Homo sapiens: one gene and its partners. The protein of the gene in region 1 interacts with the protein of each later gene in a biochemical or structural test. Each region holds a gene or a part of one and is shown on either strand. Other genes may lie near its edges. The genes, in order: RAB7A, RNF115 and VPS41.

Region 1 (3,650 bases):
GTGTACCACCACACCCACCTAATTTTTTCTTTTCTTTGTAGAGATGGAGTCTTACTTTGTTGCTGAAGGTGGTCTTGAACTCCTGGGCTCAAGCAATCCTCCTGCCTTACCCTCCCAAAGTGCTGGGATTACTCCTCCCAAAGTACTGACCACCATGCCTGGCCAAGAGTTCAATCTCATTAAAGGAAGGTATGAAAGTATACATTCAAAGGAAGAAAATAACCAGTTAACACTTTGGTCTTCCTCGGGGTAGTGAATCACAAATTTTCCTTCTTTATATTTCTGAATTTTCCTAGCTTTTTTTTTTTAACTGAATAGTTTAATAATCAGCAAAAAAGACGTATCATTTTAAATAAAAGGTAGTGGGCCAGGCGTGGTGGTTCACGCCTGTAATCCCAGCACCTTGGGAGGCCAAGGCGGGCGGATCACAGGGTCAAGGGATTGAGACCATCCTGGCCAACATGGTGAAACCCCATCTATACTAAAAATACAAAAATTAGCTGGGCATGGTGACGTGCACCTGTAGCCCCAGCTACTCAGGAGGCTGAGGCAGGAGAATTGCTTGAACCCGAGAGGCGGAGGTTGCAGTGAGCCGAGATCATGCTACTGCACTCCAGCCTGGCGACAGAGCTTGACTCTGTCTCAGAGAGAGAAAAAAAAAAAAGGTAGTGGAAGAAAGAGACACTTTTTTTTTTTTTTGAGATGGAATCTTGCTCTGTCGCCAGGCTGGAGTGCAATGGCACGATCCCGGCTCACTGCAAGCTCCGCCTCCCCAGTTCAAGCGATTCTACTACCTCAGCCTCCTGAATAGCTGGGACTACAGTGCATGCCACTATGCCCAGCTAATTTTTATATTTTTAGTATAGACGGGGTTTCACCACGTTGGCCAGGATGGTCTCTATCTCTTGACCCTGTGATCCACCCTCCTCGGCCTCCCAAAGTGCTGGGATTACAGGTGTGAGCCATCGCCCCCGGCCGAAAGATACACTTTTACAAGGGGTGAAATGTCGTGGTCTTTAGGGCACTAGCATATAATGGAAAGGCAGGATGGTACATCAGAAAGAGCACTGAACTGAGTTAGCAGACCTAGACTGACATTCCAGCTGAGCCACCTGAGCATACAGCCTCAGCTATTTCAGGCAGATACACACAACAGTTGTGAGCACCAAATGAAATCACATGTAAACTACAAATACCACAGAAACATTAAAAAGCATTTAAAGGCAAATGTGTAGGAAGGTTTCTACAAAATGTTATCGCTTTTTTAACAACCATTAACATGGTGCAGGTCAGAGGATTTAAGAGTGGGTTTTAAATGACCCGCAGTTATCTCAGGGATCCTCATATCTGTAAGTGAACAGAAGAACTGTTGGTAGGCTGACTGAATACCACATATAAGGGACACTATTTTTCATAAAGTCTATGCTTGGTTATTTAAGGTTAATTCATAGCAGCTTTGTAATTATGCACTCTCAAATAACTCAAACTACAAAGCTTATTCAATGGAAACCAACTTTTTATTACACTTACATACCAATATTGGAAATCAATGATGTAACTATTTACTTCACTAAGTAACTTTTAAAGGACTCCTGATCTGAGATGGTTAATGCCCAGCAGTATGAAGCAAAGCTGGAAAGGAAAGGCTGAGGGAGAAGAGAGAACTTCCTTTCCTTTATCTGGCAGCAGCCACACAAGAAGGACCAACTAAGAGACAAGCAAGGCTGGAGAATTCCTAAACTGCCCTTGTCCCAGGCTCCCCTTAAATAGGCTCCCTTGGATTTGCTTGGTCCCAACTGTAGACAGTCCCAGGACACCAGAAGTGGACAACAGAATCAGGCAAACTTAAATTTCTCAGCAGTGATGCCATCACCAAAACAGAGACTCCAGGCCCCATGAGTTAAGTACTGCATCTTCAAGCAAATGAACAAGGCCAATGCTGTAGGTCAGCATTGGAACCAACTCCCAAGCTTTCTTCCTCCCACAAGGAGATATTTTGCAAGTAGCTATTCTTAAATATGTTTTTGTAATCACAGCCTGGGATACTAAAATTGAAACTGGTAACAGACACTGCTAAAAAACTTGTTTTGATTTCACTCGCCACATCACTTTTACCTCTGATTCACAAATCGCAGTGACCACCACCATTAAGAAATGTTTTAAAAATAAGTTTTAGGCTGGGCATGGTGGCTCACGCCTGTAATTCCAGCACTTTGGGAGGCCGAGGCGGGTGGATCACGAGGTCAGGAGATCAAGACCAATCTGGCTAACACGGTGAAACCCCGTCTCTACTAAAAATACAAAAATTAGCCGGGCGTGGTGGTGGGTGCCTGTAGTCCCAGCTACTCGGGAGGCTGAGGCAGGAGAATGGCATGAATCTGGAAGGTGGAGCTTGCAGTGAGCTGAGATGGCACCACTGCACTCCAGCCTGGGCTACAAAGCAAGATTCCGTCTAAAAAAAAAAAAAAAGTTTTAAAACACAAACTATTTTTCTGTCTTTAATGCCATATGGAGTGTGGGGAAAAACAGAATAGAAGATTTAAGAGCAAATAACTGAAAAGATCAGCATATTGCAAAAATGTTTCTGCAGCAAACTGCAGACAGAGAAGCATAGAGAACTATTAGATAATATTAACAGATAAGCATGTGGTAACACAAAGGAATGGATGCCTGAGAATACAATGGTAGCCTTCCTTACATGAGAGGTAAGAATCATCAACAGCAAGCCAATAGCCAAAAAATAAGGGGGGAGGCGGGGAGTTCATTTCTCGAGTTTCAGTCGCCTTCAGAAGAAGACATTTAATGCCAAGGGGAACCTCTGTTTAGCCTTATTCAGGAGGACTTCTAATCCTTACCTCCCCAGGAAAAGCCTGCCTACAGCTCCAAGTCCAACATCTGGTCAAATCTATCTCAGCTGTATTTGTTGAATTAAATGAATGGGGAGATAAATACTTTATCATAGGAAAAACTAAAATATTTGTGTCAAATGCCAGAGAGGAATGTGCATAAGACAACTGTCATATTTGCGTGGTCTGTGTTTGCTACATCTTTGTTTACAAAGTCTAATGCCAAAGTAAGAGCAAAAACGTTATTAGTGAAGATCCCTTTGAAGACTTTTTTTTTTTTTTTTTTTGAGAAGAAGTCTCGCTCTGTCGCCCAGGCTGGAGTGCAGCGGCATGATCTCTGCTCACTGCAAGCCCTGCCTCCTGGGTTCACGCCATTCTCCTGCCTCAGCCTCACGAGTAGCTGGGACTACAGGCGCCCGCCACCACGCCCGGCTAATTTTTTGTATTTTTAGTAGAGATGGGGTTTCACTGTGTTAGCCAGGATGGTCTCGATCTCCTGACCTCATGATCCACCTGCCTCGGCCTCCCAAAGTGCTGGGATTACAGGCGTGAGCCACCGTGCCCAGCTGAAGACATATTAAAAGCTAATCAAATAACCAAAATTTTTTGGCTTCACTTGGCAGTGGGGTCAGAAAACTGATTCAAAGCCACACTTTACTATAAAGAGTTGTTCTCTGATTACAGGGTTGGTGAGCTTAGACACAGTTGGCACTAAAAAAAAATTTTAAAAAAAATTGCCCCAAGTGGTTGCTAACTACCTAGAAGGATATACTAATAAAACTATTTTTAGACTATCTTCTACAT
Region 2 (3,650 bases), on another chromosome or scaffold:
CATCTCAGATTCCTGTTCATTCTACGGGTTTCACTGTAGACAGAGTACTTTGTATTTAATGGCCGGGTGCGGTGGCTCACACCTGTAATCAGCACTTTGGGAGGCCGAGGCAGGTGGATCACTTGAGGTCAGGAGTTCCAGATCAGCCTGGCCAACATGATGAAATCCCATCTCTACTAAAAATCCAAAAATTAACCAGGCATGGTGGCGGTTGCCTGTTATCGCAGCTACTCAGGAAGCTGAGGCAGGAGAATCACTTGAACCTGGGAGGTGGAGGTTGCAGTGAGCCGAGATTGCGCCACTGTACTCCAGCCTGGGCGACAGAGCAAGACCTCATTTCAAGAAAAAGAGTACTTTGGCTGGCGCCAACAGGGTCCAGGTCTGTGCCTGCCATTGGAGAGGATGCCACAGCCACAGGGGTGGGCGCTGGCCTGGAGGCCTCCAAGGGGCATCTCCTGTGAGCCCAGGGGATGGGCAGGATCTGAGCGGAGAAGAGTGAAAGTGGAGGAGTGAGGCCAGAACAAAGGCTTTGCCGTGAAAGAGGTGGTTTCCCGCCTAGGCTCTGACCTTCACTCACTGTGTGGCCCAGGCCAAGGGCAAGCGTCTGACCTCGCTGGGCCTTTGTTTCTCAGGGGTAAGATGAAACAATGGCTCCCTCTCCCTCTCCCTCTCCCTCTCCCCACGGTCTCCCTCTCCCTCTCTTGCCATGGTCTCTCTCTGTCTCTGATGCCGAGCCGAAGCTGGACTGTGCTGCTGCCATCTCGGCTCACTGCAACCTCCCTGCCTGATTCTCCTGCCTCAGCCTGCCGAGTGCCTGCGATTGCGGGCGCGCGCCGCCACGCCTGACTGGTTTTCGTATTTTTATGGTGGAGACGGGGTTTCGCTGTGTTGGCCGGGCTGGTCTCCAGCTGCTAACCGCGAGTGATCCGCCAGCCTCGGCCTCCCGAGGTGCCGGGATGGCAGACGGAGTTGCGTTCACTCAGTGCTCAATGGTGCCCAGGCTGGAGTGCAGTGGCGTGATCTCGGCTCGCTACAACCTCCACCTCCCAGCTGCCTGCCTTGGCCCCCCAAAGTGCCGAGATTGCAGCCTCTGCCCGGCCACCACCCCTTCTGGGAAGTGAGGAGCGTCTCTGCCTGGCCGCCCATCGTCTGGGATGTGAGGAGCCTCTCTGCCTGGCTGCCCAGTCTGGAAAGTGAGGAGCGTCTCTGCCCGGCCGCCATCCCATCTAGGAAGTGAGGAGCGTCTCTGCCCGGCCGCCCATCATCTGAGATGTGGGGAGCGCCTCTGCCCTGCCACCCCGTCTGGGATGTGAGGAGCGTCTCTGCCCGGCCGCCCCGTCTGAGAAGTGAGGAGACCCTCTGCCTGGCAACTGCCCTGTCTGAGAAGTGAGAAGCTCCTCCGCCGGGCAGCCACACCGTCTGAGAAGTGAGGAGCCCCTCCGCCCGGCAGCCACCCCGTCTGGGAAGTGAGGAGCGTCTCCGCCCGGCAGCCACCCCGTCCGGGAGGTGAGGAGCCCCTCCGCCCGGCAGCCGCCCCGTCTGAGAAGTGAGGAGCCCCTCTGCCGGGCCAGCCGCCCCGTCCGGGAAGGAGGTGGGGGGGTCAGCCCCCTGCCCTGCCAGCCGCCCCGTCCGGGAGGTGAGGGGCGCCTCTGCCCGGCCACCCCTACTGGGAAGTGAGGAGCCCCTCTGCCCGGCCAGCCACCCCGACCGGGAGGGAGGTGGGGGGGTCAGGTCAGCCCCCCGCCCGGCCAGCCGCCCCGTCCGGGAGGTGAGGGGCGCCTCTGCCTGGCCGCCCCTACTGGGAAGTGAGGAGCCCCTCTGCCCGGACAGCCGCCCCGTCCGGGAGGGAGGTGGGGGGGTCAGCCCCCCCCCCCCCCCCCCCCCGGCCAGCCGCCCTGTCCGGGAGGTGAGGGGCGCCTCTGCCCGGCCGCCCCTACTGGGAAGTGAGGAGCCCCTCTGCCCGGACAGCCGCCCCGTCCGGGAGGGAGGTGGGGGGGTCAGCCCCCCGCCCGGCCAGCCGCCCCATCCGGGAGGGAGGTGGGGGGGTCAGCCCCCCGCCCGGCCAGCCGCCCCGTCCGGGAGGTGAGGGGCGCCTCTGCCCGGCCGCCCCTACTGGGAAGTGAGGAGCCCCTCTGCCCGGCCACCACCCCGTCTGGGAGGTGTACTCAACAGCTCATTGGGAACAGGCCATGATGACAATGGCGGTTTTGTGGAATAGAAAGCGGGGAAAGGTGAGGAAAAGATTGAGAAATCAGATGGTTGCCGTGTCTGTGTAGAAAGAGGTAGACATGGGAGACTTTTCATTTTGTTCTGTACTAAGAAAAATTCTTCTGCCTTAGGATCCTGTTGATCTGTGACCTTACCCCCAACCCTGTGCTCTCTGAAACATGTGCTGTGTCCACTCAGGGTTAAATGGATTAAGGGCGGTGCAAGATGTGCTTTGTTAAACAGATGCTTGAAGGCAGCATGCTTGTTAAGAGTCATCGCCACTCCCTAATTTCAAGTACCCAGGGACACAAACACTGCGGAAGGCCGCAGGGTCCTCTGCCTAGGAAAACCAGAGACCTTTGTTCACTTATCTGCTGACCTTCCCTCCACTATTGTCCTATGACCCTGCCAAATCTCCCTCTGCGAGAAACACCCAAGAATGATCAATTAAAAAAAAAAAAAAGAAAAAGAGTACTTTGTATTTGTATTTAAGAAATCAGATGTCAGAGATTAGCCTTTGTGGGATTATTAGTGTGTTCCTCACACCAACTTAATAAGTTTCCCTGAAATGAGGTCCATTTTCTTTGACTTTTTCATTGGCATGAGTAAAACTTTTTTACTAACACAGAGACAGGGAACTCTCACATTGTTCATTCATTCTGCAAATATTTATTCAGTGTCCCTAAAGTATGTGCTTTATCCTCTAATCTGCAGCTTTTGAATGATAGTTAATTAGGTCTTGAATAGACTAGCTCATCTTATCTGACTTTAAGTGCATCTGACCTGTGCCAGCAGATTAATTTATAAATTTATAACTGAGGGTATTCTGTTTCAGTGACTATAAAACTCATTTGTTTGTTAGCATACTCTTGTCTTTGAATTTCTCAAGTATCAAGAAATCAAAAGCAATCAGATGGTTGTTTAGTACATATAGAATCAGCAAGGAAATTGCATGATCTTTAAGAGAAATTCCATCCAGATTGTGATAAATGCTAAGGAATTACTCATATTTCACTTCAAATAATTTTTTTTTAATTTTTTTTTTTTTTATTGATCATTCTTGGGTGTTTCTCGCAGAGGGGGATTTGGCAGGGTCATAGGACAATAGTGGAGGGAAGGTCAGCAGATAAGCAAGTGAACAAAGGTCTCTGGTTTTCCTAGGCAGAGGGCCCTGCGGCCTTCCACAGTGTTTGTGTCCCTGGGTACTTGAGATTAGGGAGTGGTGATGACTCTTAACAAGCATGCTGCCTTCAAGCATCTGTTTAACAAAGCACATCTTGCACCGCCCTTAATCCATTTAACCCTGAGTGGACACAGCACATGTTTCAGAGAGCACAGGGTTGGGGGTAAGGTCATAGATCAACAGCATCCCAAGGCAGAAGAATTTTTCTTAGTACAGAACAAAATGAAGTCTCCCATGTCTACTTCTTTCTACACAGACA
Region 3 (3,650 bases), on another chromosome or scaffold:
AGGATAATTTACCCCTGAAGCAAAATGACTTCACTGAAATTAGCAAATCCTATTGATGATCTTAAAGTAAACTTTTCTGGAAATGAGCTTGCTCAAATCATAAGTGAGGATTAATGTAAATGTAATAAACTGAATCTGTAAATTGGTAATGTTGAAAAGAAAAAACAATTGGGTAAGAACAAAACTGAAAACTAGCAGTGTAGCAGAAAGCACACTAGTCTTGGGATAAGGAAATGCTGAGAAGGCTGAGGGGTACATTCAATAATAACAAAGAGCCTTCCAGTTCTAAGTATTTGTGACTAACAACAACAAAAAAATCTGTTGTTTGCTAGAGAATTCTTAACTCTAATGTGAAGATATGTTCTGTGCATTTCCTTTGAACTTGGCCCTATGATTTCTTTTCTTTTCTTTTCTTTTTTGAGACGGAGTTTTGCTCTTGTTGCCCAGGCTGGAGTGCAATGGCGCGATCTCAGCTCACCACAACCTACGTCTCCTGGGGTCAAGTGATTCTCCTGCCTCAGCCTCCTGAGTAGCTGGGATTACAGGCATGTACCACCACGCCTGGCTAATTTGTGTTTTTAGTAGAGATGGGGTTTCTCCATGTTGGTCAGGCTGGTCTCGAACGTGCGATCTCAGGTGATCCACCTGCCAAGGCCTCCCAAAGCCCTGGGATTACGGGCGTGAGCCACCATGCCCGGCTGGCCCTGTAATTTCTTAAAGGGATCAGAAGCCCTGCTCTGAAGTTAGGCAGTCACCTCTGTGACCTCAACAACATCTCTACATTTTGCTTTCTTTATCTGTAAACCTAGGTTTATCAGATCTTCTTCCTGGCGACGCTGTGACAATTAAATGAACTGCTGCTCATGGGAATGGCTGGGTGACTTCGGTAGCTGGCATGCTGTCAGTACTCACTAGCACCCTGTCCTTTCCCCAAAAAGAAAGAAGCAGAAAGCTGTATTTGTTCCCATTTATGGGACTAAGAGATCAGGAACAATAAGGATGTGTTTTGCGCACTTTTACACTCATTAGAGGATGACCATATATCCCAAGGAAGATGAAGCCAGTAACTGTAAGACACAATTACAAGTTTGACTTTTCTCCCTCTATGATATGCTCTGTTCCATGAGGGCAATGGAGGCACCAGAGAAGGCAAGAGGAAACATCATTAGTCCGTCCTTCAGCATCAGGTGGTCCCACTGCTCCTGAGGCACCCTCAGTTTTCAGGGTCACTGGTTTCCTCCCTCCTGGCAAACTCTAGCCACAAGCGCTCAGACTCGAAGGTGTTGAACTCTCTTTTCTTCCTTACAAGGGTGCCAGAATTCTTAACTGCATTTGTTTATCCCAGTAAAAGTGAGTCCTTCACAATGAGAAGAGCTAACATTTATTCAATCAACAAATGCTGAGTGTCCGCCATGGCCAGATACTCTTTGACAGTCGTCACAGCACACAGAACATGTGATTAGTAAACATAATGGTGCAGGACATCAGCCTGCTAATGTTATTCCCAGGTGTCATCAAATGAGTGACAATTTGTACAATGTTTCATTAAATGCCTATTTAGAGGATAACCATAGTTGATGACACAGAAAAAAGCCAAACCCAGAATGCAAGAATCGTAGCCAGCAGAGCACGTGGAAACAACGTCCAAGTTGCAGGTAGCAGCTTGCAGGATAACCACAGTTGGCGACGCTTTCAGGCAGCTGGGAGAATTCTCAGTTGTCCATTTTATGGTTAAATGGTTTTACTAAGGTCTAAAAAATTCATTTCTAACTCCTAGACTTATGTTTCCATTACTATATAAAGAATGAGCCAAACAAATAAATAACAAAATATTCACTATGGACCCCAAAATTTCAAGGCATGAAGAGAGCCCCAAATTCTCTGTGAACTGCAAAGAGAAACCATTAGTACAGGAATAGATGAAGAAATTGTTTTTGAGTATAATATAAACATAAACAAATCTCTTAACAGCACGAGTGTCAACAAATGCTTTTGTTGTTGCAAAAACAGTCTCAAAAAGAGTGGTGACAAGGAGACTGACAAGGAGAAATGAGCTATTTTTTCATCTCCAAAATTGCACTTCCTGGTCCACGGTTCTTAGCACTGCAGATGTTGCAGAACTGTGCAGCAGAGTTCTAAAAATGCAATTTAAAAACACATATTTAAAAAATGATCTTCTTTTTCTACTCTCATATTCAGAAACACTAAGGTAGCGTTAGTCAGGGGGTGGAGAGGAAGTAATAGGATGGCACTCCTTTCTCTGGAGTTTATTTCTGGTTAACATAGGATTTAGTCTAGATCAGCTGTTACTCTGTGACTCCAAGGACACCCAACAGCAGAATACGTCTAATGTGACCTGGAGGAATATGACACTAAAAAAATGATAGCATCATGGAACACAAATCAGGCTGAGAAACACATAAGATACACAATGGCTCTCTACTGTTGTTGCTCATCTCTACAGCATGACAGCTGTCAACTGGGCCTGAATGAATTCCTTCAAATGGGTATGCTTTTATGTTTACTATAGTACATAGAACATTTCTAAATATTTTTACATTTGAAAACTAGATTAATTTTTGTTATGTGATATAAATCCACATTGTAATTTTTTTTTAACCCATACAGCCATAAGGATGAAGGGTTACAGTTTAAAGCACATTCCTCTAAGTGTGTTAATTTCCCTCTAGTTGATAGGTGCCAAGCTGCCAACTCACCATGCTGGGCATGGGCAGGCACTCCTTGTGGAACATGTGCCGGCAATGGAAGACCACCACGCTGAAGGGCTTAGCTGCATCTGGCGAGGAGGGCAGAGAAAGGAGGAGAACTTAATGCAACAAGCAAGATCATTTTAAACCAATCCCGACTGAAAGTCGAGTTGCAGTTTAATTTTCAGCAATAAGGTGCCTTTAGAGAATGGCTTATTTACAAAAGCATTCCTGAGGGGTGGTATGATCAGACACAAAACAGGTATTATAATCATGTTGCTATGCGATTCACAGGTTACTTGCTTAGCCTCTGTGTCACTTACCCAGACTACATTGAGGACAACTGTAGGAAAACCAGCAAGTGTATGTGCCAATGCGCCCCTAACCCCTATAATCATTATACACCACAGCTGAAGTTGAGTCTGTGGCTTCATAAAAATGCTTTGCCAGTCCACCTGCTACCTTTGCCAAGACCACACACTGACTCAGAGGCGGACCTGGGTTACAAGCCCAGGCTGTGGTGACCTTGCATTTTACTGCACTTGTGCTTGGGCAGATCCCCTCATCTGTTCCTGCTCTGTGTGGCCAGCTTATTTTTGGTAAGATTTAGTGTCATCAGCAGAGTAAATTTGGAGTTAAATCTAACTGTAGAGTGGGAATGTATGTGGTTCCTTTTTGCTGCAACACTGTCTGAAATGCTATGGAAGCTCACTTCTTCACCTGAGCCCATGCAGTTTTCAACAGAAGCACTTAAACATCCAAATCTAATTCCTCTAGAAAAGAACCTAAGTAGAACAACTTCTCATGGACTGCCCCATGAAATAATCCTTTAATCCTAAGTAAACATGAGGTCAACTAGGTCTTTTAGTACTTTGTTATGCTGAACTTATATTTGAAAAGCATTTGTTAGCATCCTAACAATGCTTTGTTAGTTTCCGCTTT

The links.
Region 2: the proteins of RAB7A (region 1) and RNF115 form a complex in vitro, tested with the Homo sapiens proteins (one study listed by BioGRID).
Region 3: the proteins of RAB7A (region 1) and VPS41 form a complex in vitro, tested with the Homo sapiens proteins (one study listed by BioGRID).

What each region holds. Positions count from the first base shown.
Region 1 is NC_000003.12:128,729,053-128,732,702, reverse strand, and holds part of RAB7A (ras-related protein Rab-7a), read right to left. Parts: intron 1-3,650.
Region 2 is NC_000001.11:145,765,024-145,768,673, reverse strand, and holds part of RNF115 (E3 ubiquitin-protein ligase RNF115), read left to right. Parts: intron 1-3,650. UniProt on the Homo sapiens protein: E3 ubiquitin-protein ligase that catalyzes the 'Lys-48'- and/or 'Lys-63'-linked polyubiquitination of various substrates and thereby plays a role in a number of signaling pathways including autophagy, innate immunity, cell proliferation and cell death.
Region 3 is NC_000007.14:38,724,192-38,727,841, forward strand, and holds part of VPS41 (vacuolar protein sorting-associated protein 41 homolog), read right to left. Parts: intron 2,798-3,650; coding exon 2,718-2,797; intron 2,136-2,717; coding exon 2,055-2,135; 3' UTR 1-2,054. UniProt on the Homo sapiens protein: Plays a role in vesicle-mediated protein trafficking to lysosomal compartments including the endocytic membrane transport and autophagic pathways. Acts as a component of the HOPS endosomal tethering complex.